Regions from separate parts of the Homo sapiens genome. Here region 2 is linked to region 1. Evidence: fine-mapped expression QTL. A gene starts in region 1. The other region holds a variant in brackets. All regions are shown on one strand. Distances are between the middles of the regions. Region 1 holds the start of TMED8 (transmembrane p24 trafficking protein family member 8). Region 2 holds the start of NOXRED1 (NADP dependent oxidoreductase domain containing 1).

The links.
Region 2: its variant is fine-mapped to the expression of TMED8 in lymphoblastoid cells (TwinsUK, PIP 0.95).

The regions. Positions count from the first base shown.
Region 1 is chr14:77,370,153-77,382,076 of GRCh38, reverse strand. It overlaps TMED8 (transmembrane p24 trafficking protein family member 8), which reads left to right and starts at 4,983. Exons shown (of 6, transcript NM_213601.3): 1 at 4,983-5,141. The coding sequence starts at 5,024. SAMD15 (sterile alpha motif domain containing 15) reads right to left here and starts at 4,698. Exons shown (of 3, transcript NM_001010860.4): 1 at 2,970-4,698; 2 at 1,596-1,694. The coding sequence starts at 4,658. RefSeq lists silencers at 1,402-1,582, 4,976-5,405, 9,571-9,620 and an enhancer at 4,716-4,925.
Region 2 is chr14:77,413,242-77,425,165 of GRCh38, reverse strand. NOXRED1 (NADP dependent oxidoreductase domain containing 1) reads left to right here and starts at 1,643. Exons shown (of 6, transcript NM_001113475.3): 1 at 1,643-2,431; 2 at 11,039-11,232. The coding sequence starts at 2,277. The variant AT/T (reference allele first, on the strand shown) is at 7,275.

The DNA.
Region 1 (11,924 bases):
TAGTCCCAGCTACTTGGGGGGCTGAGGCAGGAGAATCGCTTAAACCAGGAGATGGAGGTTGAAGTGAGCCAAGGTTACACCACTGCACTCCAGCCTGGGTGACAGAGCGAGACCCTGTCTCAAAAAAAACAAAAACAAAGACAAAAAACAGAAAAAACGTATTATCTGAATAGCTTGTTAAGTTGTTTCACCTTTCTGGGCCCCAGTTTTCTATAAAATGGGAATTAGTGAAATAATACATATAAGAGGCCCCAAACACAGTAAGCTCTCAGCAAAGCATAGCTATTAGCAGAATTTAAGAAAGTAAACGCTCAGTTAGGACTGTATGTTTAATAATTTAAAAAGTTTCGTTATATCTTCTTGCTAGTAAAAGGACTCAGGTATTAACAAGCATAGTTTTCTTATTTCTAAACCATATGACTTATGGAATTTTAGGGTTATAAGGCCTGTTGAAGAGTCATCTAGGGAAGAGATTCCAGGGCCTACCCAGCCCTAATGAATCAAAATCTCTGGAGGATGAAGCCTAGGAATGTATCTTTTTCAAAAAATCTCATTTGATTCTGAAGACGACCCAAGTTTGGAAACCACTGAGGTGGTACATTTCTGGGCATGGGTGTGCTGAGCAAAACCATGGTTATGCCAAGAACTGTCCATTCTTGGAGGGTTATTGGGGTGGGGTACTAAAGGAGAGGTTACACGTGAGATTGTTTGTGATGCTTTGTAAATTGCAAAGCACTACAAATGGAGGGTACTGTTATGCAAAGGAGAATAATCATGAACTGTTGGTGCTGGAGATTTTAGAAAATTGATGCTCAGAGTGGTTAATGTAGCTTGTTTCAAAGTTAGGCAGCAAAGCAGGCAAAATACATATGGTGTTATATAAGTGCCAAATGGGTGTCAGAGACACAAAATGTCATGAGAACTTGGGATGGGGGCTACTGTGGGCTGGGAATGTTACAAAAGACTTCTTGGGGAGATGCAAATGAGGAACTGGTCTTGAAGGATGATTAAGATTCATATTAGTAATACAGAGGATGGGGGAACTGAGCGAAGACATAGAGAGAAGAACGCACCAGGCAGGTTTGCGAAGGTGTTAGACCTGGTGGTAGGCTGGAGCACAAAATTCATGTGGAGGAGTGGTAGGGGAGAGAACTTGTGGAGGGCCCTAAATTCTAAACTAGGGAGTGGAGACTATCTTGGTAAGCAGAAGGGATCCAAAGAAGGTTTTTGAATAGTACATAAGTAGGTGGAAAGTGAGAGCATAAAAGCAGGGCCCTTGAATCCAAAGGGTCCATTGAGACAGGCTAAAAGCGGGAGGCCACTGTGGTGTTCTAGGCATGAGGCCATAAGGTCTGAAAAGTGGGAATGAAGAAAGCCAGACGGTGTAAGTGCCACAGGAGCAATGGACAGTTCTTGGAATATTTATGGGGATCAAAGGAGAAAGAGGAGGCAACCACCGTGAGCCTGAGGAACTGGAATTATGATGACACCATTGACAGAAGTGGGAGGCCAGGCTGGAGGAAAAAAAGGTTGGTTTGAGACAGATGGTGGCACTGTTAACAGTGCTCTGTAGGGAAACTTTGGACACAACTCACCTTCATGTCCTCAAAGTTTGTTATCCCCATCTGAGGGAGGTTTGAGCAGTTGACGTGAATGAGTTTTCGGCCACTGATGAAGTTTGTGATAAAACACTCCTGTCAATACAACAAGGACATCACTTAAAAAATGTACTGCAAATAGAAGGAAGAAAGGGAGGGAAGGGGGAGGAAGGGAAGAAGTCGTGTTTGTTCTACCCTGAGAAAAAAATATTATTTTGTTTTTTCTTTTTTAGAGACAGGGTCTCACTCTGTCATCCAGGCGGGAGTGCAGTGCTGCAGTCATAGATCACTGCAGCCTCGAACTCCTGGACTCAAGCAGTCCTCCTGCCCCAGCCTCCTGAGTAGCTTAAATTTACTTTCTATCCCAATAACGGCACAATTTTTCCATGTAAGCTCTTTATTAAATTTTACACTGCTCTTTAACTGTTTTTTTGGGCATGGTACAACCAGTGCTTCTTCATGTCTCAATTACATTTGTAAGTATAGTAGGTACAAAAGGTTTCAGATCTTGTATTGTTTTGTGGTAGCCTTAAACCTAGTTGGCATCAGTGAAACAAGAGGTTTACACTGACTTTTTACTAAAACTAGTTTTGGTTAACTGGCTAACTTGAATTAATACACTTAAGTGCTCATGATACAGGTGACATATTTGGGGCAGACACTTTAAAAAGTAATAGCACAAGTTCAAAGCAAGGGAGCTGCCACTAAAATAACTTGACAAAGTACCAAAAAGCCTACCTTGAACAAAGTCTACTTAAAAATACAGTTTTCTATGAAAGGAGGTCTAAGGCCGGGCACGGTGGCTCACGCCTGTAATCCCAGCACTTTGGGAGGCTGAGGCTGGCGGATCACGAGGTCAGGAGATGGAGACCATCCTGGCTAACACAGTGAAACCCCGTCTCTACTAAAAATACAAAAAATTAGCCGCGCATGGTGGCGGGCGCCTGTAGTCCCAGTCCCAGCTACTCAGGAGGTTGAGGCAGGAGAATGGCGTGAACCTGGGGAAGGTGGAGCTTGCAGTGAGCCGAGATCGTGCCACTGCACTCCAACCTTGGCAAGAGCGAGATTGTGTCTCAAAAAAAAAAAAAGAAAGGAGGTCTATATACTCTTCTTGGTCTTTTATTCAAGGATTGCAGAGAAGTGTAATCACTGGAAGAGGAAAAACAAACCGATGTGACCCTCCCTTCCTCTCCCAAAATACAAATATACATCAGTGGCAAGGCCAAAATTAAAATCCAAGTTACCTCTACCACAGTCTAGGACTTTTTGATACTCCTTCCGGTAAAGAGGTAAGAGCTCAGGCCAAGTTAGAAGGAATAAGAAGTAGACGGATGACAGCATGTGATTTCAAAACATCTTATTTTTGTATACCTTGTATTGAGGGAAGCCTAGCTGGCTAATCCACTCTGCAACTTCCTCTGGATCCCAATTAAGATGCTCAAATTGTAACTCAGTCCCTTTTTCTGGCTGGGTTTCGTCATCTTCAGAGACCCGTTCCTTCAACTCTTGGGACAAATCTACAACTTCCTTTTCATGAACGAACTCACTTAATTCTGTCTGAGACTCTGAGGGATCTGAGTATGAGCATTCTTCACTGACATTAAGCAATTTTTGGAGTGGTTGCAAAAACTCATAATGTGTACCAATTGATTCTTCACTTTCTCTGAGAGATCCTAATGCGTAATATTCTTTTCTAAATTTGTCACTTAGTGACAACTTTCCTCTTTTAGGCTCACGGTGCTCTAGCTCATCGTTTCCTACAGAATACTTAGACTTTATTGGTTCTGGCCTGTCTTCCTTGGAAAATTCTACATGTGTCTCCCTTGGTTTGGTTTCATCTGGTAACTCTAGAATTTTCTCAGTTGGCTTTGTTTGTGTTTTCTCTTCAACTTGTGGGTTGATCTCCTGTGGTAGCACTGGACCAGTCTCCTCTGGTGGCTGTGGATTTTTTTTCTCATTTGACTTTCTTATCTCTTCTGGACTTTCTGGTTTCATCATTTCTGATTGTTCTAGAATTGTTTCCTCATTTGTTTTTCTTGATTCTTCCTCAGGAAACTCTAATTTGATCTCTTCTAGTGGCTCAGGAACGTTCTCATCAGTAGACTTTCTTGGCTTGTGGTCTGGAAAGTCTGGTTTAGTCCGCTCAGGTAGTTCTGTCCCTTTCTCCTCAGTTGCCTTTCTTTGCATCTCCTCTGGAACCTCTGGTTGAGTCTCTTCTGGAGGCTCTAGACCTGCCTCCTCACTAGACTTTCTTGGTTCCTTCTCCAGAAATTCCAGTCTAGCCTGCTCGGGTGGCTCTGTCCTTTTCTTCTCAGTTGACTCTCTTTGTGTCTCCTCTGGAGTCTCTGGTTTGGTCATCTTTGGTGGCTGAAGATCTGTCTCTTCAAGTGATTCTCCTAGTTTCTCACTTGGAAAATCTTGTTTGGTCTGCTCTGGAGGCTCTAGACCTGTCTCTTCATGTTGCACTCTAAGTGATTCCTCTGGAACCCCCGGTTCAGTCTCCTCCTCTAGTAATTCTAAATTTCTCTCTCTGACTGTGGCCCCCGAAACCTCAGACATGGTTTCCGTTGGTGGCACTGGATCTGGATCTGTTTCCATAGCTGACTCTAGGAACACATCCTCTGTAACATTTGGTTTAGCCTCCTCTGGTGGCTCTAGGTCTGACTCTTTATGCGTTTCATCCATAGGGGCCTCCAAATCTTTGAAAAACTCTCCCATCTCTCTGGATGTTTCCGACTTTACCTCTTGGTGTATCCCTGGTTCAGTTTCGCTTGGTACGTCTCTCTTGGACTCCTTGGCAATTCCTTCCTGGGACGTCCCGCCAGGTTTCAGCTGCACGTTCTTAGCACTGTCTGGCTCCCCCTCTTTGAAGTCCTCTTCCTCGGTCTCTGGCTGTGGCTCTTGGTAAATCTCTGCTGGTAGCTTCGAGTCTGCCTTTGCCATGGTGTCTGGTTCGGCATTTTCATACAATTTATGAAGTCCAGGCAGTTCAGGCCTCTCAGGCTCCAGCTCTCCATCTTCATCTGGGCCGGAATCATAATCCTCCGGGACTTCAGCCATTTGCAGCTTAGCAGACGCGCCGCGGCTTCCTAGCAACCCCAACTTCCGATAGCGTCTCTATGGATACCACGATTTCCGGCAGTGTCTTCCTGACTCTTCCCCAGGTTTTGTTTGTTCTTTCAAGCCCTGACTTTAAAAATCGTCTGTCACAAGCACGCAGTAACCCTCCCTGCGGCCTCATCGCCAGCCTCAGCGGGCCAGAGCTCCTGTGGCCGCCCCTGGGTCAGCTAGCTTTTCAAGCGGCCGCCGCGCCGCTTCTTCCGGCCTGCAGGCTGCGCTCGGCTGTGCTCGGCGCTCGCTCGGCCTTCGGCTGTTTCCGGAGCCACTCGCGGCTGGCAGCGGAGAGCTCCGTGCGCGGGCTGCAGATGTCTGACCTGCAGGCGGCTGAGGGGCCGGGCTCCTGGAGCCCCACAGCCCGCCCAGGGTCGGCTGGCGGCGTCGGGGACTGCCAGGGAGTGGAGGGGAGCCAGGCGGCCGCCTCAGGTACGCAAGGCCGGGGCGCTGGCGGGTGGGTGCCGCCCGGCCTCAGGGCCCCGCACCACGGCGCGAGCCTCCGCCGCGCTCTGTCCTGGGCTTCCCCGCGGAGCGGACCCACCTCGGCAGCCCCTTCGCGCGCGGGGCCCCTTCCCCGCCGCTGCCACCACCCGGGCCCTGGGCTCGAGGTTATTTTCTACTCACTCCTGTTTCGAAATGCCTTGATTCCTGCCCCGCTTCCTTTCTGAGATCTGCCCAAATGGTAGTGACAGGGTGGCTCTGCCCCTGGCGCCTCTTCAGCTTCAGTTTCAGCTTCAGCCGGGGTTCGGGTCCCACCTCCGTCTGCTAATCACATCTAGACTGCCGACCCGAACCCTACTGGCCTCGCCGCCCCCTGCTTCTGGCTCCCCACCCTATCCCCATCTCAGTCCCCTGCCCCAGCCTTACCACGCGCCTCTCGGCCCCCACCCGGGTTGGCAGCCTTGCCTTCCTCTGCCAGAAGCCCACTGCGCCCTAGCCTTCCTGCACATAGGCCCCCTGGCCTTGCTGCCATCCTCTCCATCGCTTAGAGTGGGAAAAATGAAAAGCAGAGTTGAAATAGGTAGTGTCTGGGGTCTTTTGCTTGAACACAGTAGCCAAAGCAAGAGCAGGAATTAAAAATTTGGCCTACCTCCCTCATTCTCAAGACCCTCATCCTCTTCTTGTCCAGGACGACGTCTCCATTTCTACTAACGCGAGTTCCTCCGTGTGTATTATTTCAGTGTCCAAAGACAAAAGAGTCCATCCATCACACTTTCTTCTTTCAGCCTCCTGAACACCACACACGATGCAACTGAAAGGATGCTCTTTTGAAATACGAAAGGGTAGAGGGGAGAGAACTTGTCTTATTTAAGTAGCAAATATAAATTAATTTTCTAGGTCTGAAATTAAAATAGACACCATAAAGTATAATGGTTGAGGCACTACTGTGGAGCCAGGGTGCCTGGATTGGAGTCTGAAACGTCAGTTTCCTCATCTGTAAAATGTGATTACTAAAAATATCTGCCTCATAGGATTATTGTGAGGATTACTTGAGCTGCTTTGTCTAAGGCATTTGGGGTATAGTCCATGGTACACACTATACTCGTCTCAACCATTGTGACAGTAAGGTCTCTTTTTGTTCAGTTGAACTTCCTGTGCCGCCAGAGGTGTTCTTGGATGTATGGCTTCCAACATGGTGCCTTTTTCTGTCTTCTACTCTGATCCCAAGTATCTTCCCTCTCATAATGCTGCCTTATTCAAACACACACACAACTCACCCAGCTCTTTCCCATGATTTTATATTCTTTTACTTTAAAACACCTGACAAATTTTGCCTTTTTTTCTTACGAACTCTGCTTTGTATTAAATTAAAAATCGTTGGCATATATTTAACATAGCAGTAGAAATTCTAAGCATAATGTCTAAAAGACTAAGCAAGTAAACACAGAAAGGTAAGTCTTATAACACTTGTCCCTTGCATGCGCCAGTATTTACAAATTAAGCATGTTTTTACTTCCCCTTTAGGTTCTCATGTGTTTATGGCAAACGTACCCACGCGTTTTAGATAGATGAGTGTGTTTTTTTTTCCCCCTGACATCTAATTCATTCCTGCATTCACTTCCTCCCAGGACATTGGTAGAGATGCTTACTTTCCTTCCTCTTACCCTCAGAATGCAGGGTGATAATTTTTTTTTTTAATGTCATGTAGGGGTTTATTATAGTAGCCCAGAGCAAGCTCTTCCTCTTGAGGTAGGATTTGTTGCTAATAAAATAATAGTAATGATAACCTACAGATATTGAATGCTTATTCTGTGCCAGAGGTGGAAAAAAATTTATATTTTCTGATTTAGTCATGTCAACAATCATTTTCTTCCCATTTTACAGAGGAACAAACTACAGCTGAGAAAGGTTAACTTACCTGTTCAAGTTAGCGCAAGTTTTTACTGTCTGGATGAAATTGTCATCTTGTTATGATGAAGTCTATAATTGTTTGTTTTTATTGGCCATGAATCAAGTATTGGTACTCGCAGACAGGTTATGGTCTCTGTCCTCAAGGTGTTTTCAGTTTGATGAGATGAGAGATCCATTTCAGGGAGAAACAATTAACAATTCAAAACATTATATAATTGGGCGTCTTTTATTACAATTCTTTATCTACTAAGAAACCTGCTTGGAGTTAGGAACGGAATCTCTCTTGCTTGTTTATTTATCTAGAGCCCTTGATGTTGTGTTTTAGAGGTTTCGCAAATATTTGCTGAGTTTGATGGTGAGAGAAAGTCTGAATGCAGAGATCTGGATGAGCATCTAATGAATGTGAAGAATTAGGGTTGAGATAACCAAGAATGTTCCTTGGGTTAGAGCAATGGTTTTCAACCAGGTACGATTTTGTATCCCCAGGGCATGGCAATGTTTGGAAACATTTTTGCTCGTCACAACTGGTGGCAGCTATTGCTGACATCTAGTGAGGATAGGCTAGGGATGTTTGCTAAACATCCTGCAAGGCACAGGGCAATCCCCATAACAAGGAGGTATCTGGCTCCAGATGTCAGTGGTGCTGCTTTTGGGAACGCTGTGTTAGAGTTAAGCTGGGCTTCCAAAGCAGTGTGGAAATACTATATTTGGCCTGGACCAGAGGCTTGGGCGTAAACCCCAAAAAACTGCTTTAAACTTGGAATTCGTTTGATTGGATCCTTCTGCCATCTTCCTCTAGAAAATGATACAATGAGTAAGCAATAGAGCTCTAAGAAAGAATGAAATTTAATGAGATTTCTCTCACCCTTTCAGAGAGAAAACAGCAGTAAGAAATGGAATTGGATATTCAGGTGTTCTGTTAGTCCATTTGGAATACCTGAGACTGAGTAATTTATAAGAAAAGAGTTTTAATTGGCTCATGGTATTGCAGGGTGTACAGGAAGTGTGGTGTTGGTATCTGTTTCTGGTGAGGGCCTCAAGAAGCTTAGAATCATACTGAAAGGGGGAGCAGGTATGTCACATGGCGAGAGTTGGGAGTGAGAGAGAGAGAGACGGGAGGAGGTCCCAGACTCTTTTAAACAACCATATCTCAGGTGAACTAACTGAGTGAGAACTCACTTATCATCAAGAGGATGATGCCAAATCATTCATGAGGGATTCATCTCCACGATCCAGTCACCTCCCACCAGACCTCACCTCTAACATTGGAAATCACATTTCAGCGTGAGATTTGGAGGGAACAAACATCCAAGCCATATCAGGTATTGTTGAGTTAAGGGTTTTGGTTTTTTGGTGTATCTTATTCCTTCAAAGCAGGAATGTGTCATTATCCAGAATAACCATAACTTGTTTTTTAAAAGTGTTCTCTGCAGAGAATACCTATTGAGTGTCTTCATGTTTGTTAGCTGAGGTTTTGGTGAAAAGGAAGGAAAGGATTTATGTTCTTATGAACTAAGCTCTCCAGTGGTCATGGTGTTCTTATTGTTTTATGCATTGTAATTGTTTTTAATAGTCTTTTATTTGAGGCACCTGGGTTCTTCAGTTCCCCAGAGGAGAGATAAATCATTCTTTAATTATGAAACTATCTGAGGCATACTTGTTGCATCACTTAAAGGCAGGTTTTTTTGTTTTTGTTTTTGTTTTTTTTTTAAGTTTAAAGGAAAATAAAACTCTATTGTGATCCTGAAGTCAGCAGTAGAACTTAGTTTGGTGTGTATGTCCCCCAGAGCTATCAATACATTTAGATGTTGAGGATGGAAACAGGTCAGGTAAACTTGTTCATGGTTCTAAGGTAGAAGTTAGAATATTACAATAAGTCTTTTTGCAGTGATGAAAATATTTCATATCTGTCCCAGCTACTCAGGAGGCTGAGGCAGGAGAATCACTTGAACCCAGGAGGCAGAGGTTGCAGTGAGCCGAGATTGCACCACTGCACTCCAGCCTGGGCGACAGAGGGAGACGCTGTCTCAAAAAAAAAAAAAAAAAAAAAAAAAAAAAAATATATATATATATATATATATATATATATATATATATATATATATAATATCTGTGGCTATTTCAATGTGCATGAATTAAAATTCAAAATTTGGTGGCTACCATGTTGAATGGTAAGAATAATAGGGAGTCAATGACAAACAGCCTTGATGTTTTTTAGTTTTCTATTGTGGTTTTATGTCAAAATGTTAACATTTTGTCTGCCTGTGGCTTTCTTTTTCTTACAGTGGTTGTGTTTTTAGTGTCCAGATAGTCGATTAGTCAGATAGTTGATTATTCATGTCGTGATTCAGTCTAAACAGTATAACCAAAGGTGCACAATCTGAGTGACCTCTCAGGAGCATGTCCCACTCAAGGGCTGAAGAGAAATTGGATCACATGGTCACTAGATTTGGTTGGAACATAAACTCACTTAATTTGTTTTCGTTTAAGCCTCTTGAGTCTGTAACCACATAGCCTGCTTTTAGTTCTTCTGCACTGGAATCTAAAATGACAGGCTAATTATCTCTTTGCAGCCTGTTTACTGAGGGGGAAATCCTCTGAGGCCTGTTCTAAAGAACCCTGACCTGATATTCAAATGCTTTTGAAAAAAACCTGCTTTTTGGTTCTCCTTGTAGGGAAAGTACGAAGTACACAGTAAGTTTGAATCCCTAGCATGATCAGAATGTCTGAAACCAGACCCTTTGGTAATGTAGAAAGAAAATGCACATTTAAAAAGTTGTCAAATATAAAATAAGTTATTTTAAGGAAGTTCCTTTTTTCTCTCTCACCTTTGCTTTAGTGGCCATCAATGATAAATTAAGTTATTGTTAAGCTTCCATTTTTCCTCCTCCGTTCATTGTTTCCGAGATTTCGGCCACTGAGGAACCATGGTAATGACTTTGCCACACTGGAGAATACCGTTACAGTATTAGTTATTTACTATTTTTTCTTGACATTGACATTTAATTGACATTTTGATTGACACTTAAAAGTTTCATTCTAAATAATACCTACGATATTACTAGTTTGATATATCCATTTTTCTTAATATATACTAGAATACATATTTTTAAAAATAAAAAACATTTCCCCACATACCATCTAAATTTGCAAAGTCTGGCCTGATTTCTCTGATCTCTTCTAGGAATACTTTCAGAATTGGCTTATATTTGGCTAATATAATAAAAGCTATACTATAGGAAAATTGGCTTTTTCTTCTGCATAGTGGCTTAAATTTCACTGAAGAACTTCAGGAAACCTAAAAGGCTGTGCTCATAATTCTCTCTCACTGAAACAGCGCTGCATCTCCCACACTTTATACTTCTGGAAATAAAGTTATGTTTTTCTTTCTCCTTTTCTTACTTCCTGCCTCTCTGAATCCAATTATAAGTTGTTTTACCAGTAGTTCTTATGTAATTTAGGGCATTCTTTAAAATTAAAAATAATTTAGGGCATTCCTTTAAAGTTAAAAATCAAAAGCTCAACTCCTTATGGGATGGAAAGAAAAAAAATCAAAAGCATATTTTTTTCCAGTATACATTAAGTTGTTAAAATGCTATGAGAAGTGGTGCTTACCATGTGAAAAATGCTCAACCTAAATCATAATAAGGGAATTGGAAATCCTAACTACACTTGGTAGTTTGCTAACTCACTTTGTTGGTCGGTGTGCAGAAGCAGACACTCTCATGCTTTGCTAATGAGATTGTAAATTGGTACAGATTCTGTGGAGGGCAACTTGTCAATATCCATCAGAATTACAATATATGCCCCTTTGACTCATTCTTTCCAGGAATTATAGATTTATTTATTCTCCTGTTTAATGACATAGATACAAGGTTATTATGGCATTGTTTGTAATGGTAATACATTATGGAATATTCACCCAATGAAATACTAATCAGCTGTAGAAAAGAATGAAGAAGCTTTTCATGTGCAGTTATGGAAAGGTCTTTGAGATATAAGTGGAAAGAACAAAGTACACAGTAGTATGTCCAGCATGCTCCCCCCGACCTTTTTTTTTTTCTGAGACAGAGTCTCGCACTGTTGCCCAGGCTGGAGTGCAATGGCGTGATCTTAGCTCACTGCAACCTCCGCCTCCCGGGTTCAAGCGATTCTCCTGCATCAGCCTCTCAAGTAGCTGGGATTACAGGCACGCACCACCACGCCTAAGCATGCCCATTTTTTGTGTAAAAAAGTGAAAAAGTATACACACACACACACACACACACACTTTTTTTTATATGCATAAAACATCTTTGGAAGACTACACAAAACCAAATAACATTGATTGCTTTTGGAGGTAGGGACTGACATGGGAGGAAATTTTTCACTGTATACTTATATGCTTTTTGAATTTTGAATAATGTGGATAAATTATTCAGAAATAGTTAATAAAAATAGTCTTTAAAATATATAAATATATGTGTACATAGATAGACACACACACAAACTTGGCATGAGACTTCACTATGTCTATATCCTAAATAAGAGCCTTTCTATAGGTCTGTATTCTGTTTCTGCTCATCAGGAACTGACATTTTCTAGACCTTTTTCTCTCAGTGAATTTTTTTATAAAAGGTTATAAGTCTCCTTAGAGATTAATTTTGTTATTCTTTAAATCCACTACTGTCTTTCATTATTTTTGTGCTAGTTTCATTTCTGTCTAAAAATTTAACCTTTTTGAAGTCTTCATTACGATCCAAAGGACAGGATAAGCCAAAGGGGGATAGACATAGTAGATAAACTGATATTATTAATCAATGACAGAGAGAGGGCAGAATTTTTTTTTTTTTTTTTTTTTTGAAACGGAGTCTCGCTCTG
Region 2 (11,924 bases), 43 kb before region 1:
AAGTGAGTGAGCAGGGACAAGCTAGAAACCATGAGAAGGGACTGGGACCCATGTCAGTTCTCACAGCCTCAAACCTTGATGAGGTGGGTGTCCCGCTGCTGGAAAAGCTAGTGGCCTTTGTCATGGAAATGAAAAACACCTGGCCCAGGAGTGAGCAACTGAAGAAGGAACCAGGGAAGATGTAGCAGTTACAGGCCCAACTGTTGCCCCTCACCAACAAGGTACTCAGCAGATAAACAACAACATGTGTGAACTACAAAAGTACTTCCCCTGATTATGCACACTGAAACACAGACTGGTTACTGTTCATTTCCACCCTCCTGATCTTGCATAGAAATATCTCTGGTGGTCCACCTTAACTGGAAACATACAGGGAAGGACATTCTGGAAATTGCAGTTCAGCCTAGCCAAGGTGACATAATACAAAATATAACAACTGATCCCCACTTTTGAGAATGCATAAGTAAAGGATAGGCCTAGAATTCATGTCTGTACAACTTGTATGCTGCATTGGTCATGCTAATCTAGGTTTTGAGCTTCTTTTTCCTTCGGAGCAGGAAGCATTACTTGGCAACATTAGGATGACCTACTGACTGTTTTGGTGTAAGAAAATGTTTCTTAGGTTTGATGAGAACGTCCATGCCCCTCATTTCAAGTGCAGAGACTTTGCTTTTACTTTATTTTATTTTTTATTTTTTTGAGATGGAGTCTCCCTCTGCCGCCCAGGCTGGAGTACAATGGCGCAATCTCAGCTCACTGCAACCAACGTCCATCTCCCAGGTTCAAGCAATTCTCCTGCCTCAGCCTCCTGAGTAGCTGAGATTACAGACGTGCCACCACACCCAGCTAATAAGTAGCTGCCACCATGCCCAGCTTTTTAGTAGAGATGGGGTTTCACCGTGTTAGTCAGGCTGGTCAAACTCCTGACCTCAAGCGATCCGCCTGCCTCGGCCTCCCAAAGTGCTGCGATTACAGGCGTGAGCCACCACGCCAGGGTGAGACTTTGCTTTTAAAGAGATGGTGTCGTCATATAACAGCCTTCCTATAAAAGGGATTAGAGAAGCCAGACACAAAAGGTCACATATTGTATGATTCCATTTATATAAAATATCTGGAATAGGTAAATCCATTCAGACAGAAAGCAGATTGGTGGTTCCAGAGGCTGAGGGTGGGGAGGGATAGGGAGTAACTGCTTAATGGGTGTAGGCGTTCCTTTTGGGAATATGAAAGTATTTTGCAACAAGATAGAGGTGGTGGCACAACATTCTGAATGTACTGATGAATTGTTCACTTTAAAATGGCTAATTTTATGTTATGTGGATTTCACCTGAAAAAATTTTATTGGTTTCTTGAACACAAAAAGAAGGAGTTGTAAACTAACTCAAGTAGTGCTAAGATCTGTAAGATATTCTAGTCTGCAAAAAAAACCCCTAGAAATCCAGAATCTTCTGTTGGGAAAAGGAGGGTCTCATACTGCTCTAGTGTAGTACTCCTAGAAATAGTGGAAGGAACTCATGTCCTGATACGCAGCTCAGGAAAACCTCTAAGTGGGGCTGGCCTCTTTAAGACTTAGAGACTGTAATCTGGTAGTTAAGGAGTCATAATCACAAGTTTCTTGGTAATTCTCCTTAGAAATGTAGTTCTTACCTTCCAGGATCAGAAGTACTGAGGAGCAGAGCCAATCTTCTCTGTTTGGTGATAGATATATGTAGATGGGTTTATATGACTTTGAGTTTAGTTTGTAAAATCTAGATGTCCCTGCCCTAGACAGGGGACAATGATATTTAGTTTGGGTTATTTTGTACCCTGTGGAGAACAGAGTTTAGTGAAAGGGAAGCATTTCTTTGAAATGTGGTTCTATGTGTTCAGTCCTATTTCCAAAACGCAGGAGGGAATGGAAGGGAAAACGTCCTGGCCCAAGAATACCTGTAAAACTCAATTGCTGTTGTAAATTCATCTGCCGAAAACAGTGCCTGTAACCTGTGTGGAGAAACAATACTTTGGGTTTCTGTACAGGTTTTTCATGAGTCCAGGATTCATGGGCAGCCAGTGATTAGGAATCCTCAAACACTCACACTCTAGAGTGTGAATTCAAGAGAGGTGAATTCCAAATTCAGAATCTGGGAGTAGAGAGGTGCTGAAGCCCATCATCATGAGTGCTTGTGACCTGGGCACACACACCATCATACACACACCTCCTACATAGACCCCTCTTCTACCGGGACAGGGAGCCAAATTGATTAGTGTCTATCACTGCAGGAAATAGTGGCTTGGAAATGGACATGCTCCAGGACCTTGAGTCCCTGCAGTTTGAGTATGGGGTTCCAGAGGAAGATCGTATCTGGCTGTATTTGCAGGGCCGTTCTCGGGGACTGATGATCGAGGCTTGTGCCCATGCAACCTTCTTCTGCAAACTATTATATAATTTGAGGTAAGCCGAGTATCCAAATTCAGGAAGATGGACAAGAATCTCACTGCTGAGAATTCAAATGTCTTAAATTTTTTTTATATTGGAGGGTAAGTTTGGCTGGTGGATTGTCATCCTATCTTTTCCAACCCAGAGTCAATGACTCCTGGTCTAAAAGGACAGGAAAATCTATACCAGGGTCCCCTGGCTGTGGTTACATAATAAAGCATGGATTAGTAGTGATTACCTTTTAGTGGATGGATTGATTAAATGATCATTTATTCATCCATTCACTCAGTCATCATGACCACCAGCTTGCCCTCCACAGTTGCTAATGTCTAGCCATTCCTTATCTATTGGCAAGGAATGCAAATGGAATCAGTTCTTTCTTTTGGGGCTGAGGTAATAGTGGAATGCTCCCTTACAGGAAGCTACCCGGGACTTCACAGGCCCTGTGCCAGTGACTTCCTTGAAACCAGGAATATTGATTTGCAGAAAAGCTGTCAGTCCAGTCTTGATTCTGATATCTTTCTACAATATGGCTTCAGACACTTAAATAGGAAATGTGTGTGAAGCAGGTACCTATAATTAGGCTTCTGAATTCTGCAACTCCAGGTCACTCTGGGAGCATATGTCACCTCCTCACTCTACTTCTTAGTTTTTCTCTGAAGTTAGATTAATTCCTAGATGGTGGGACCAAATTTGAATTGAACATGTTTATAGATACAGCACATGTCCAAGGAGGCAGGCTTCTCAGTGAATTTACTGACTGGCTTACTGATAAGGATGCATAAACCTATTGGTGGTACTCAATATGACTGGGAGAAAACAATATATGAAACTTGCAGGTGGCATTTTATATTTGGAAGGATCAGGCACTAAGAGAAAATGCTCTTTCAACCAGGAGAGAAGGCTTAAATAGAGAGTGACTTATGTTGCTTAGAAGCAAAATCCAGAGCTTTAAGACACTGGTTTTTACAGAAATACAGAACAAATATAAGGCTGTCATATAGCAACGAAAGTATACCTTATGTATTCAGAAGTCTGACTTTGTTAATCTTGCGCCAAGGAAACACATCCAGCACCAACAGTAAGTGAACCTCTGGAAATAGTGGTCTGAAATCTTCATCCTTAGTTTCTCAGTTCTGTTCTTTTTTGTTTTGTTTTTGTAGTTTAAAGTTGTACCCTGAATGAACACTGTTTTGTTTTTATAAACCATTTATGTGTATAAGTCATAACCTTCTTAAAAAGCCAAGTTATCTGGTTTCTCAAGTCTGCAGATTTGAAATAGCAAACTAGAAAGAGTGGGTGTATCGTAGGAAAGGAATGCACTCACATCTAATAGCAATAAAAATTGACATCTGTCTCAGATTGGTATCAGTAAGATGAAGAAATAGGAAGCTCCAGACTCTGTAACCTCGAGACACTAACTTAACAACAATATATGGTCCAAAAAGCCTTTATGAAACCTCCAGCAAGCACTTAAGAAATTGTAGTGCCCTGGAGAGGTACAAATCCAAGAACAGCTGCATTTACAGGGGTAAGAAAAGCCATTGCAGTTCACCTAAGATATCCCTTTCCTCAAGCCAGCCTCAGGTGATCAGGAGAAAATGCCTAATTTGTGGCTTCTCCTTTGGAGGGAAAAAGAAAAATGGAATGTTTGTCCACTGTTCTGCCTTTTTGGGGGCTGCCTGAGGGATTGGTTTCTGTCTCACATGACTTGGAGCACTGATGAGGAACCAACATATTTTGGATGAAAACAAAGGATCACTCAGTGGCTTGTTGCAGTACAGAGAACCTGCAGTACTGCAGATAGATACCAAAGTGAGGAAAAGATTATCAGCCCCTGCAATAGAAACAGGCAAAACTCTTTAATTGGGAAATTCCAAACTCAAGCCCAGAGAAGACACATTCCTGGAAAGATTTGACAGGCCCCAGAATCTCTAGCTGGGCTGATTGGGAAAGATCTTCCCCTGTATGGTGCCAGTCTGTAAAGATTGGGAGAGGCCTGACTGTTTTTTCAAATGCCCAAATTCCACCAAAAATTAAAAAGGCAATATTGCTCAACCATAAGAACAAACTACTGCAGAAACCAGCCCTAAAGAAACAGATCTGTGAGTTACCTAACAAAGAATTCAAAGTAATAATCTTAAAGAGGCTCAATGAGCTACAAAACACAGAAAAACAACTAGGCTGGGCAAAGTTTACAGATTACAGATTACAGGCCTGTAATTTGTAATTACAAATTACAAATTACAAATTACAGGCCTGTAATCCCAGCAGTTTGGGATGCTGAGGTGGGAGGATTATTTGAGCCCAGGAGTTTGAGACCAGCCTGGGCAACATAGTGAGACCCTGTCTCTGAAAAAACAAAACAAAACAAAAAAAAACTGATGAAATCAGGAAAACAATACATGAATAAAATAATATCATAAAGAGAAACTAAGAACCAAAATTTGGAGCTGGAGAGCACAATAATTGAATTGAAACAACTCACTAGAGTGGTTCAACATTAGACTTGATCACACAGAAGAAAGAATCAGCAAATTTGAAGACCAGTTATTTGAAATTATGAAATCAGAAGAGCAAAAAGAAAAGAAAAGTGAAGAAAATCTAGAGGACTTACAGGATACTATCAAGTGGGTCAATATATGCCTTATGGGAATGTCAGAAGGAGAAGAGAGGCAGAGCAAGGTGCAAAGAGCTTATTTGAAGAAATAATGGCCAAAAACATCCCAGATCTGAGGAAGGAAATGGACATCCAAATTCAAGAAGCTCAGAGGACTCCAATTTGGATGAACCCAAAGAGGACCACACAGAGACACGTTATAATCAAACCATCAAAAGTCAAAGACAAAGAATACTGAAAGCTGCAAAGAAAAAGCAACTTATCACATGCAAGGGAGTTCCCAGAAGACTATTGGTGGCTTCTCAGCAGAAACATTACAGGCCAGAAGGGAGTGCTTGATATATTCAAAGTGCTGAAAGGGGAAAGAAAAAAAAAACCTGTTGGTCAGGTGTGGTGGCTCACGCCTGTAATCCCAGCACTTTGGGAGGCTGAGGGGGGCGGATCACGATGTCAGGACATCGAGACCATCCTGGCTAACATGGTGAAAAACCGTCTCTACTAAAAATACAAAAAATTAGCCGGGCGTGGTGGCGGGCGCCTATAGTCCCAGCTACTTGGGAGGCTGAGGCAGGAGAATGGCGTGAACCCGGGAGGCGGAGGTAGCAGTGAGCCACGATTGCACCACTGCAGTCCAGCCTGGGCGAAAGAGCGAGACTCTGTCTCAAAAAAAAAAAAAAAAAAAAGGAAAAAGAAAAAAAAAAACCTGTCAACCAAGAATACTATCTCTTGCAAACCTGTGCTTCAAAAACTAAGGAGAAGCTGGGCATGGTGGCTCACATCTGTGACCCCAGCACTTTGGGAGGCCGAGGCGGGCAGATCTCCTGAGGTCAGGAGTTCAAGACCAGCCTGGCCAACGTGGTGAAACCCTGTCTCTACTAAAAATACAAAAATTAGCTGGGCATGGTGGCAGGTACCTGTAATCCCAGATACTTGGGAGGCTGAGGCAGGAGAATTGCTTGAACCCAGGGAGGCAGAGGTTGCAGTGATCTGAGATTGCACCACTGCACTTCAGCCTGGGTGACAATAGCAAAACTCTATCTCAAGAAAAAAAAAAAAAAAGAGAAAGAAAGAGCTTCCCAGATAAACAACAACAAAAAACCTCATCACTCCTGGACCTGCCTTACAACTAATGCTGAAGGGAATCCTTAAGTTGAAATGAAAACATGCTAGTCAACAACACAAAAGTATACAAAAATAAAAAGCTCTCTGGCAAAGGTGAATATATAGCCATATACATAATACTGTGATGGGTGGCACATAAATCATTTTTAATTGTGGTATAGGATTTAAAGATAAAAGCTGGCCAAGTGTGATGGCTCACACCTGTAATCTCAGCACTTTGGGAGGCCAAGGCAGGAGAATTGCTTGGGCTTAGGTGTTTGAGACTAGCCTGGGCAACATAGGGAGACAACATCTCTTAAAAAAAAAAACAATTAGCTGGGCATAGTGGTACACACCTGTGGTCTCAGGTACGTGGTAGTCTGATGTGGGAGGATTGCTTGAGCCTGGAAAGTAGAGGCTGCAGTGAGCAATGATCATGTCACTGCACTCTAACCTGGGTGACAGAGCGAGACCCTGTCTCATAAATAGATAAATAAAATGTATATAAAAATGTAAATATAGAAATAATAAAATGTATAAAATAAAATTATAAATATCAATAAGTATAAATATAAATAATAAAAATTAAAAATAGGCTTGGCACGGTGGCTTACGCCTGTAATCCAGCACTTTGGGAGGCTAAGGCAGGCGGATCGCTTGATTCCAGAAGTTCGAGACCAACCTAGGCAATGTGGTAAAACCCTGTCTCTACTAGAAATAACAAAAATTAGCCAAGTATGATGGTGTGTGCCTGTAGTCCCAGCTACCTGGGAGGCTGAGGCGGGAGGATCACCTGAGCCCAGGAGATCAAGGCTGAAGTGAGCTGTGTTCACGCCACTGTACTCTAGCCTGGGCCACAGGGTGAGACCCTGTCTCAAAAATAAAAATACTAAAAAAAAACCTATTACTATAAAACCATGCTAATGGATACAAAATATCCAAAAGATATAATTCATGAGATAAATAACAAAAAGCAGGGGTAGGGGAAGATGAAGTAGAGTTTTTGTATATGATTGACATTATCATCTTAAAATAGGTTGTTACAACTATTTTTATGATTTTTATGCAATTTCCTACGGTAACTACAAAGAAAATACCAACAACAAAAAGAAAATAATGTCATTACAAAAAAAAAAA[AT/T]CAGTGAAATACAAAAGAAGGCAGCAAGAGAGGAAAAGAAGAACAAAACTGCAACACAGAGAAAAAAACAAACTGGCAGTGATAAGTCCTTCCCTATCAGTAATTATTTTAAATGTAAGTGGATTAAACCCATCAATCAAAAGATACCGAGTGGCTGAATGGATAAAAAACAAAAACAAAAACAAGATCCAACGTATATCTTGTCTTCAAGAGACTCACTTTAGATGTTAGGACACATATAGGCTGAAAGTCAGACCATAGAGAAAGATAATTCCACGTAAATGGTAACCAAAAAAGAACAGGAGTAGTCATACTTGTATCAGACAAAATAGGTTTTAAGTCAAAAACTGTCATGAGAGACAAAGAATGACATGATGATAAAAAGACCAATTCACCAGGAAGACACAACAATTATATATGTACTTAACATCAGAACATCCACATATATGAGGCAAATATTGACATAACTGAAGGTATACAATTATAGTAGGAGATTTTAATACCCAACTTTCAATAATGGATAGAACAACCAGACAAAAGGTTAGTAAGGAAACAGAAGACTTGAACAACATGACACACCAATTAGAACCTAATGGACAAGTACATAACACTCCACTCAGCAGCAGAATACACGTTCTTTTCAAGTGCACATGGAACATTTTCCAGGATAGATCACGTTAGGTCACAAAATAAGTCCTAACAAATTTAAGAAGATTCAAATCATACCAACCGTCTTTTTTTTTTTTTTTTGACCATAATAGAATGATACTAGAAATAGCAGAAGAAAAACTAGAAAGTTCACAAATATGTGGAAGTCAACACAACTCTTGAACAACCAATGAATCAAACAGGAAATCACAAGGAAAATTTGAAAATATCTTAAGTGAAAATGAAAACAACATACCAAAACTTATGGGTTGCAACAAAAGCAGTACTATGAGCAAACTTTATAGGGGTAAATGCCTACGTTAAAAATAAGAAAGGGCCGCCCCTACTGGGAGGTGAGGAGCCCCTCTGCCCGGCCAGCCGCCCCGTCCGGGAGGGAGGTGGGGGGGTCAGCCCCCCGCCCGGCCAGCCGCCCTGTCCGGGAGGTGAGGGGCGCCTCTGCCCGGCCGCCCCTACTGGGAAGTGAGGAGCCCCTCTGCCCAGCCACCACCCCGTCTGGGAGGTGTACCCAACAGCTCATTGAGAACGGGCCATGATGACAATGGCGGTTTTGTGGAATAGAAAGGGGGGAAGGGTGGGGAAAAGATTGAGAAATCGGATGGTTGCCGTGTCTGTGTAGAAAGAGGTAGACATGGGAGACTTTTCATTTTGTTCTGTACTAAGAAAAATTCTTCTGCCTTGGGATCCTGTTGATCGGTGACCTTACCCCCAACCCTGTGCTCTCTGAAACATGTGCTGTATCCACTCAGGGTTGAATGGATTAAGGGCGGTGCAAGATGTGCTTTGTTAAACAGATGCTTGAAGGCAGCATGCTCCTTAAGAGTCATCACCACTCCCTAATCTCAAGTACCCAGGGACACAAACACTGTGGAAGGCCGCAAGGTCCTCTGCCTAGGAAAACCAGAGACCTTTGTTCACTTGTTTATCTGCTGACCTTCCCACGCTATTGTCCTATGACCCTGTAGATTGCTGTCTACAGATGCACTGCAATCCTTATCAAAATCCCAATGACATTTTTCATGAAGATAGAAAAAAAATCCAAAAATTGATATGGATGAAGCTTGAGGACATTATGCTAAGTGAAATTAGCCATGTACAAAAAGACAATACTGCATAATTCTACTTATATGAGGTATCTAAAGTAGTGGAACAGAAAGTAGAATGGTAGTTTCCAGGGGCTGGGGAGAGAGAAAAATTGTATAGAGTTTCAGGTCGGGTGTGGTGGCTCATGCCTATAATCCCAGCACTTTGGGAGGCGGAGGTGGGCGGATCACTTGAAGTGGGGAGTTCGAGACCAGCCTGGCCAACATGGAGAACCTCATCTCTACTAAAAATACAAAAATTAGCTGGGCGTGGGGTGTGGTGACACGCGCCTGTAATCCCAGCTAGTCAGTAGGCTGAGGCAGAGAATTGCTTGAATGTGAGAGGTGGAGGTTGCAGTGAGCTGAGATTGTGCCGCAGCACTCCAGCTCAGGCAATGGAGGGAGACTGTCTCGAAAAAAAAAAAAAAGCATATAGAGTTCCAGTTTTGCAAGATGGAAAGGTTCTAAAGAGCTGTTGCACAACTATATCTATATGTCTGTCTGTCTGTCTATCTATCTATCTATCTATCTATCTATCTATCTATCTATCTATCTATATGTATTTTCTTTTTTTGAGATCAAGTCTTGCTCTATTGCCCAGGCTGGAGTGCAGTAGTGGATCTTGGCTCACTGCAACCTCCACCTCCCGGGTTCAAGAGATTCTCCTGCCTCAGCCTTCTGAGTAGCAGAGACTACAGGTTTACACCATCATGCTGGGCTAATTTTTATATTTTTAATAGAGATGGGGTTTCACCATGTTGGCCAGGCTGGTCTTAAACTTTTGACCTCAAGTGATCCACACGCCTTGGCCTCCCAAAGTGCTGGGATTACAGGCATCAGCTACCATGCCTAGCCACAATGTGCATATAATTAACACAACTGTACTGTGCACTTTAAAAATGGTTATGATGGTGAAGTTCATGGTGTGTGTGTGTGTGTGTGTGTGTGTGTGTGTGTGTGTTTTCCTGAGACAGGGTCTTGCTCTGTCACTCAGGCTGGAGTACAGTGGCACGAGCACAGCTCACTGCAGCCTCAAACTCCTGGGCTCAAGCAATCCTCCCACCTCAGCCTCCTGGGTAGCTGGGACTACAGGTGTGCACCACCATACCTGGCTAATTCTTGTATTTTTTGTAGAGACGAGGTCTTACATGTTGCCCAGGCTGGTCTCAAACTCCTGAGCTCAAGTGATCTGCCTGCCTTGGCCTCTCAAAGTGCTGGGATTATAGATGTGAGCCACCGTACCCAGCATGTGTTTTTTAACCACAATAAAAAAAAAAATTGAAAGCTGTCTGCACAGAAACAAACAAAACATGAGGGGACTGGCCCACAATGTGTTATAGACATTACAGTATGCTGTATAATAGTGGCTGTTCACAGTGGTGTCCTGAGCCAGTGAAATGATTAAATATTCAGACTGTTTAACCAGGCAAGCATAATACATGTAACAAAGTATGTTCATTTAAAACATTTTAAATTTTGGTCCCTTGAAAAGGGTTATACTTTTGTTTCTGGAAAATTAACTCAGGAGGAACATTTCATTCCCTAGTGAGGCTGGATAAATGACACACAGTTGAAATGTCTTATCTCCGAAGTACTTAAGGTGCCACCAAGCACCTTAAATGACAAAGCAGAAAATGTCAGAGAATGACAGTTAAGAAGAACTAGGCCGGGTGCGGTGGCTCTCGCCTGTAATCCCAGCACTTTGGGAGGCCAACACGGGTGGATCACGAGGTCAGGAGATGGAGACCATCCTGGCTAATACAGTGAAACCCTGTTTCTACTAAAAATACAAAAAATTAGCCGGGAGTGGTGGCAGGCACCTGTAGTCCCAGCTACTCGGGAGACAGGCAGGAGAATGGCGTGAACCTGGGAGGCGGAGCTTGCGGTGAGTCAAGATCACCCCATTGCACTCTAACCTGGGCGACAAAGCAAGACTCTGTCTCAAAAAAAAAAAAAAAAAAGAAAAACTAGTGTGTGCATGTATTTATGTACGTGTCTGTGTGTTCATTCTCCAGAGCATCATTAAATAAGAATCAAAGTTCCAGACATCTCTCAATTGGCTCCCTTAATTCAGCCACTCCTGAAGAGTTTAAGGTGGGCATCATTGGAGGTGGCCACCTTGGGAAGCAGCTGGCTGGCACACTGCTGCAGCTTGGCCCCATCCCTGCTGAAAGCCTGCGGATCTCCACTCGGAGGCCAGAGACTCTGGGTGAGGAGCAGTGTGTGGTAGAAAGGGGGCTTGGTTGTGCTGTGTAGGTGTCAACAAAGCCATTTTGAAAGGGTCCTCCAAAGAGGAATCCTTGCATACAGCGTGTGGAGTTCTCAGCTTGCTAGCCCTAAGAAAGGTTAGAAGCATGGCCTTTTCTCCTGTTCTTTAAAGCGACTTTTTTTCTCCATGTATGTGTTTTATATCCATGTCTCCTCCCTGTGCCCTTGGTGGTGAAGTATCTTTCCAGATCTTTGATACAGGGAAGCTTTCCATACAGAGTTCAGATCTTCTAACTGAATCAGTTAGGGTCTGGTTGGGTGTTAAACAGTTCCAGGCATTTGCAGTTGGCCTTATATTTTTAAAAATGACATTTACTGACTTTAAAAAAATGTTTTGTGGTCGGGCGCGGTGGCTCACGCCTGTAATCACAGCACTTTGGGAGGCCAAGGCGGGCAGATGACGAGGTCAAGAGATTGAGACCATCCTGGCCAACATAGTGAAACCCTGTCTCTATTAAAAATACAAAAATTAGCTGGGCATGATGGTGCGTGCCTGTAGTCCCAGCTACTCAGGAGGCTGACGCAGGAGAATTGCTTGAACCCAGGAGGCAGAGGTTGCAGTGAGCTGAGATCACACCACTGCACTCCAGCCTGGAGATAGAGTAAGACTCCGTCTCAAAAAAAAAAAAAAAA